Linked DNA regions of Homo sapiens. The protein of the gene in region 1 purifies or fractionates together with the protein of each later gene. This does not show direct contact. Each region holds a gene or a part of one and is shown on either strand. Other genes may lie near its edges. The genes, in order: TESPA1 and ITPR3.

The links.
Region 2: the proteins of TESPA1 (region 1) and ITPR3 purify together in Homo sapiens (affinity purification with mass spectrometry; 3 studies listed by BioGRID and IntAct, with this or other methods). This does not show direct contact.

Annotation. Positions count from the first base shown.
Region 1 is NC_000012.12:54,950,587-54,954,027, reverse strand, and holds part of TESPA1 (protein TESPA1), read left to right. Parts: intron 1-3,441. UniProt on the Homo sapiens protein: Required for the development and maturation of T-cells, its function being essential for the late stages of thymocyte development.
Region 2 is NC_000006.12:33,683,505-33,687,321, forward strand, and holds part of ITPR3 (inositol 1,4,5-trisphosphate-gated calcium channel ITPR3), read left to right. Parts: intron 1-515; coding exon 516-664; intron 665-852; coding exon 853-961; intron 962-1,093; coding exon 1,094-1,184; intron 1,185-1,269; coding exon 1,270-1,439; intron 1,440-1,854; coding exon 1,855-2,029; intron 2,030-2,138; coding exon 2,139-2,323; intron 2,324-2,548; coding exon 2,549-2,749; intron 2,750-2,904; coding exon 2,905-3,015; intron 3,016-3,504; coding exon 3,505-3,600; intron 3,601-3,721; coding exon 3,722-3,817.

The DNA.
Region 1 (3,441 bases):
ATAAAGTCACCAGCAAGAGAAGCATTATACAGAATAAGCAGAAATGTTCACAGGATGCTTTGAGCTCATAGTTTAGTGAAAAACATGACAAGAGAATCAGTAATTATTAATAATTTTCATTAAATGCCATAGGGACCAGAAATTAACCTTTCAGAAGATGGCATTACTTTTTTTAACGATGTGTGTTGGCAAAGATGTAGAGAAGGTAGGCCGGGCACGGTGGCTCACGCCTGTAATCCCAGCACTTTGGGAGGCCGAGGCGGGCAGATCACGAGGTCAGGAGATTGAGAGCATCCTGGCTAACACGGTGAAACCCCGTCTCTACTAAAAATACAAAAAAAATTAGCCAGGCGTAGTGGCGGGTCCCTGTAGTCCCAGCTACTCGGGAGGCTTGAGGCAGGAGAATGGCGTGAACCCGGGAGGCGGAGCTTGCAGTGAGCTGTGATCGTGCCACTGCACTCTAGCGTGGGCGACAGAGCGAGACTCCGTCTCAAAAAAAAAAAAAGTAAATAAAAAAAGATGTAGAGAAGGTAAGTCTGGACAGATGTGTCCAACATTGAACAGGGAGAAGGTGGCTGAGGAGAGTAGAAAAAGGAAAAGCAGAATATTGATATTCTAGGCAGAGAGAAAGGTAAGTTCAAAGACAGATGAATGGAATACCACAATATCTTATGGAAACTACACCTTATGCCTAGTGGGAGAAAGGGGATGTGCTGGAGAAAGATCAAAACTGAAAATAAGAAAGATAAATAGAAAGGAAGTTATAAAACAGAGTCTCCTATGTTATTTTAAGTGTTTTGGTTTAGTCTAAGGTAGGAATCCACTGAAAAATTTACAAAGGAAGTGATGTGATTAGATTTGTCTTTTAGAAAGATTATTCTGGTAGAAGTATGGGAGATGGACTGGGTAGGAAGCCGGCAGAGTAAGGAAAATAATTTAAGAATCTACTGCAGAAACCTAGGGAGAAATGTGATGATCAGAAACAAGCTGAAGGCAGTGGGAATAGAGGGGAGGACGAGTGAGATTTTGAGATATTCAGGAGGTAAAATATCTAAGCCAGGACCGATTAGACTTGTGTTTGGGGAAGAAAAATGGAATAAGGAACAGAAAGAAAGATAGGGCATACAGGTTTCCTCTTGGGCAACTAAATGGATGTAAATATCATTTTATTAAGAATGAAGTAAAAATAGGAATAACAATTTGGAAGGCAAATATATTAAAGTATAATTTTCAAAAAGGTAAAATAATGACTCTCATGCAAATGTAGATAAACATGTTCAAAGACTTTACTCAATTCATTAATTACTGAAGGCACCAGCAATATGCTTGACCTGGTCCAAAGACTATTTGAGAAGTCAGTTTATACAGAGAGAGAATTTAACAGATTGCCATATTAGATACAAAACTGGTTAATATCCAATAACAGCATAAACTTTATCTCTGGGATTACTGGTTCCACTGGATGGAAATTATTTGCATCTCTACCCAACATAAATCACTAAGGTAATCTCTGCTCTTGCAAAACTATAAAATAGCAGTGTAAATAGAAAGTCAAGATTAACACTGTACTGAAAGAGTATCTAGTCATCTTGTTTGACTATTTAGAAAAAGCTGATGAGTTCATATCTGAACATGGTGAGTGTAAGGTACTTCTAAAATACTGTGATAAAGAGGTTCATGTCTTCATTGGTTTCTGTTGCTATAATAGAACATTACAAACTAGGTATTTTACTTTATAAAAGAAATTTATTTACTACAGTTCTGGGAGCTGGGAAGTCCAAGGTTGAGGGACCACATCCGGTGAGGGCCTCCTTTCTGCATCATAACATGGCAGAGGATATCACATGGTAAAAAAGCAAGAGCATGCCATCTCAGGTCTCCCTTCCTCTTCTTATATAGCCAAGATTCCCATCATGGGGCCTCACCCTGATGAGTTTATCTAATCCTAATTTTTTCCCTAAGACCTCACCTCTTGATACTATCACGATGGCAATTAAATTCCAACATGAATTTTGGAGGGCAAACTCAAACAACAGTCCATAAGGCAGTTTGGATAAAGGAATCTAGGAATTGAGCTTTTTGGAGTTCAAGGCTTACTTATAATAGGTGACGGCATGAGGAAAGATAGTTCACCCAAGAAAGTATGCAGAATCAGAATCTGAAGTAAAAAAAAAAAAACAACTTAGAAATATTAATATTTAAAGTTTTATCAAGGAACAACGTATATAAAGGAGCAATATTGATTAGAAAAAGGTTGCAAATAGAAACCAAGTGATGTTTCTCTCAAGAAGGAGGGTGTAGTCTTCAGTAACATTTACCATAAAATATCCAATAGGAAGGAAAATGCAAAGATACCATTGTATTTGTGACTAGATAACAATTACTAACCTTGATAAGAATATTTTTATTTGGGTGACAAGGCTTTAAAATATTAATATGAAAAGTGAATAAGAAATGTTGAAAAGAAAGTAGGTAAATAATTTTTTTCTAGGATGGTGAAAGTTTAAGCATACAGTAAATATTTCCCTGGAAGGAAAGAATCAATAGAATGGGAAAGGCTATGGTTTAGGAGGGAAGGAATTGTATGAGTCTCTTCTCACATTGCTGTAAGGACCTAGCTGAGAGTGGGTAAAGAAAAGAGGTTTAATTGGCTCATGGTTCCACAGGCTGTGCAGGAGGCATGGCTAGGGAGACCTCAGGAACTTTCATTCATGGCAGAAGGGGAAGGGGAAGCAAGCACATATTCACATGGTCAGCAGGAGAGAGAGAGAAGGGGGAAGAGCTACACACTTTTAAACAACCAGATCTCATGAGAATTCACTCGCTGTCATGAGAACAGCAAGGGGGAAATCTGCTTCTGTGATCCAATCACCTCCCATGAGGCCCCACCTCCAACATTCAGGATCACAATTCAACATGATATTTGGGTGGGGACACAGAGCCAAACTATATCAGGGATGTTAATGGTGTGAAGTCACTGAGAACTGGGATGAGATGAGATTCAAGGCACTTTTGGAGGGTGTAGCTAGCCATAAAGTAGTGTGACAGATATTTCTCTGAGATTAAAGGGAAAAAAAAATGGAAAAAAATTTTAAGTGTCAATATGGTTATATTGGTCATCTGGAGAGGAAGTCAAGAAAAATTCTGCCTATTTCTTTCTCTCTTTTTCCTGTGGGGTCATTACTAAAAAGTGTGAGTCAGGAAAGGAATGGTAAAAATTTGAGAATTCTACTATGTAGAAAAAACAAGAGAAATACTTATTAATAGAAAATGCATTGCTAGTTGAATAGGTGAATAATGTTAGGCTCATTTCAAGGTGCAGAACATGAATTGATAGTGGTTTAGTGATATTCTCCAACAGTGTTCAGCAATCCATACAAAAAAATAAAGGTATAAATGTATGCCTTTATAAGTATTAAACAGTAAGAGGTAAACTCTTGC
Region 2 (3,817 bases), on another chromosome or scaffold:
CCACACTTCCAGGAAGGGGCTGGTTGGCTTCTCTACACTCTGGGGCTGCTAAGGGCCGACCCAGCAGCAAGGGACTGGGGAACCTCCTTCCAGAGGAAGCCTGGAGAACCCAGAGGCCTGCTAGTGGGGTTGGAGCTCATGAGGGGGTCGGGACCACCCCTCACTCCTGCAGCGCCCTCCTGTCTATGCAGCACATTTCTGTGCGCTGTCTCGTTGGCCTGTAGAGGGGGTGTGGTGGATTATTTTCCCCACGTGGCAGGAGACTGAGGCTCAGAGAGGCTAAGGGGTTTGCCCAAGGTCACACAGAGCTGGGAGAGAAGCCAGGCTTGGCAGCTCCCAGCCAGGGCTCTGAGCAGACAGACATCACGCTGTGTTCAGGGTGTCTCTGTGGGTGTGGGCCCCTCAGACAGAGGCAGGGCAATCTGTGGGGCTGTTTGGCGTTTGGGTCGGAGGAATGGCAGTCACACCCGGGTCATTTCTTGGGCCTGGCAATGACTCTGCCCTGCCCACCCCAGGACATCATCACAGCCCTGGAGGAGCGGCTGAAGCCCCTGGTACAGGCTGAGCTGTCCGTGCTGGTGGATGTCCTGCACTGGCCTGAGCTGCTCTTCCTGGAGGGCAGTGAGGCCTACCAGCGCTGCGAGAGTGGGGGCTTCCTGTCCAAGTGAGCGAGACACTGGGGCATGGGGGCAGCAGGGGTGCAGCGGCAGGGGACAGAGAAGGGCCCGGTGGGGACTAGACAGGCTCACTGGGTCAGAGGGCCTGGGGGTGTTCCTGCCTGGGATGGGGTGGGGAAGTAGCTGGAGGGAGGCAGTGTGGGGCTGCCCTGAGCTGCCTCCTTGGCCGGCTCAGGCTGATCCAGCACACCAAGGACCTCATGGAGTCGGAGGAGAAGCTGTGCATCAAGGTGCTGCGGACCCTGCAGCAGATGCTGCTCAAGAAGACCAAGTACGGGGACCGGGTGAGTGCCCTGGTGGGGCAAGTGCTGGGTGGGCCAGTCAGGAGTACCCAGGGGCTCAGGGTCAAGCCCGTCAGGCCAGTGGTCAGTGGTGGGCTGTACCCACAATGGGGCCTCACTCCCATCCTCCCCCAGGGCAACCAGCTGCGCAAGATGCTGCTGCAAAACTACCTCCAGAACCGGAAGTCCACCTCGCGGGGGGACCTTCCCGACCCCATAGGCACTGGTCAGTATCACCTTCCCCTGCCCCCGGGCCCTCCCTTCCACTCTCCTGTCACACCAGCTCTCCCTCAACCGAGTCCCGCCTCCAGGCCTGGACCCAGACTGGTCGGCAATCGCAGCCACCCAGTGCCGGCTGGACAAGGAGGGGGCCACCAAGTTGGTATGCGACCTCATCACCAGCACCAAGAACGAGAAGATCTTCCAGGAGAGCATCGGCCTGGCCATCCACCTGCTGGATGGTGGCAACACAGAGATCCAGGTGTGGGGGGCCTGGGGCCTGGACATGCCCTCCTTTGCCTCCCTCCCTTTTTGGAGGAGGTGGGCCTTGAGTTGGGCACTGAAGGCCGAGGAGGGTGTGAAAGAGGAGAGGCCTGAGCAGTGGCTGAGAGGTGAGAAGAGTGGGCATGATGGGGGCAGGGTGGTGAGGAGACGGGCTCAGGCCTGGCTGGGGCAGAGGGGTATGCGGGGGTGATGAAAGGACCACGTGACACAGGAGCAGATATGGGGCATGGAGCCGCCCATGGGTGGCCATGGATGCTAGCCACCAGCACCCAGGCCTGCAGCCAGGCCCCTGCAGCCCCAGCGGCCCCAGCAGTGTGGTGTGCCTGCCCCACGCCCTGAGTAGGAGCAGGGCCCAGTGCTGAGGTTGTTCCCTGGCCACTGTCCACCTCCAGAAATCCTTCCACAACCTGATGATGAGTGACAAGAAGTCAGAGCGCTTCTTCAAGGTGCTGCACGACCGCATGAAGCGGGCCCAGCAGGAGACCAAGTCCACGGTGGCAGTCAACATGAATGACCTGGGCAGCCAGCCACATGAGGACCGCGAGCCAGTCGACCCCACCACCAAAGGTCAGGGGTCTGAGGCAGAGGCACGGCGTGACGGGGATCCCAGGATAAGATGTGCAGGGGGGTGGCCAAGGGGGTGGGCAGCTCCAGCCTCACCAGGTCTCGCCCACAGGCCGCGTGGCCTCCTTCTCGATACCTGGCTCCTCATCCCGCTACTCGCTGGGCCCCAGCCTGCGCCGGGGGCACGAGGTGAGCGAACGTGTGCAGAGCAGTGAGATGGGCACATCCGTGCTCATCATGCAGCCCATCCTGCGCTTTCTGCAGCTGCTGTGTGAGAACCACAACCGGGACCTGCAGGTGAGTGCCTCGCCACACACCTGCCCCTTCCCCCGCTGGCCAGCCGGCATGCAGACTAGGCAGTGTGGCTGGTGTCCCTCTATGGCAGGTGTGCCCTGCCCTGGGCACTGCTGCTTTGTGGCTGGTGGTTCCCCTACCCCTGCAGCACACAAGATCGTGCTTCCCAGGCCAGCCTCCCTCTCCGTGCTGTAGCTGTGCTGTGCCCAACCCTTCTGTGCCCCGCAGAACTTCCTGCGCTGTCAGAACAACAAAACCAACTACAACTTGGTATGCGAGACGCTGCAGTTCCTGGACATCATGTGCGGCAGCACCACGGGCGGCCTGGGGCTGCTGGGGCTCTACATCAATGAGGACAACGTGGGCCTCGTCATCCAGACCTTGGAGACCCTCACTGAGTACTGCCAGGGCCCCTGCCATGAGAACCAGGTGAGCTGTCCTGGTGGCATAAGTGGCAGCCAGGGTGGCAGTGTGGACATGTGGGTAGATGGAGCCAGCTGGGGCAGGGAGAGAGGCTGAGGTCTCTGGAGCTGCCACTATTCTGAGAGGGCCTGGGCCCTGTGTCCCCCACTGCCTCCTGCCAGACTTGCATTGTGACTCACGAGTCCAATGGCATAGACATCATCACCGCACTGATCCTCAATGACATCAGCCCCCTGTGCAAGTACCGCATGGATCTGGTGCTGCAGCTCAAGGTGGGGCCCAGTGGCAGGTGTGTGAGTGCTGGGTGTGCATGTGATGTGCATGCATGTATGTGTGACTTGTGTGTCAAGTGTACATAGTGGTGTGTAATGTGGGTGTTAGCATTGTGTGATGGGGCATCATCTGGATGCACAAGTGTGTGGTGTGTGCAGGGTGTGTGTGTAATATACGCATGTTTAAGCATGCTGGAACATACACTCACTCTGGATGCAAATATATTCTGGTTTAGCTGAGGACTTGCTATGTGTGTGTCTGCTGTCTGGGTAGCTGAGTGTTTGCCACAGCGGGGGTGAAGGCAAGCCTATGGGTGGGCTGGCTGTGCAGGATGCTTCTCATTAAGCCGGGGGGAGGGAGGATGGGAAGGTCATGGCACCTGACCTTTTGTTGGATGGGAGAGCTGTTATGGAGAGGAATGAGGGAGAAGTTGTCAGGGGCATGGTGTCCTGAGACTGTGGCCTGCCTCCCTCTGCCCCTCCACCCAGGACAATGCCTCCAAGCTGCTCCTGGCTCTGATGGAGAGCCGGCATGACAGTGAAAATGCTGAGCGAATCCTCATCAGCCTGCGGCCCCAGGAGCTGGTGAGGCTGGGCAGGTGGGCAGGCGGGCGGAACCAGGTGGAGTGTGTTGGGATGGGGATGAGGGCCCGGCTGGCCCTACCGCCCTAGGAAGAGAGCATTGGAACAGGCACTGCCCCTCCAGGTGGACGTCATCAAGAAGGCCTACCTGCAGGAGGAAGAGCGTGAGAACTCGGAGGTGAGCCCACGTGAAGTGGGCCATAACATCTATATCCTGGCG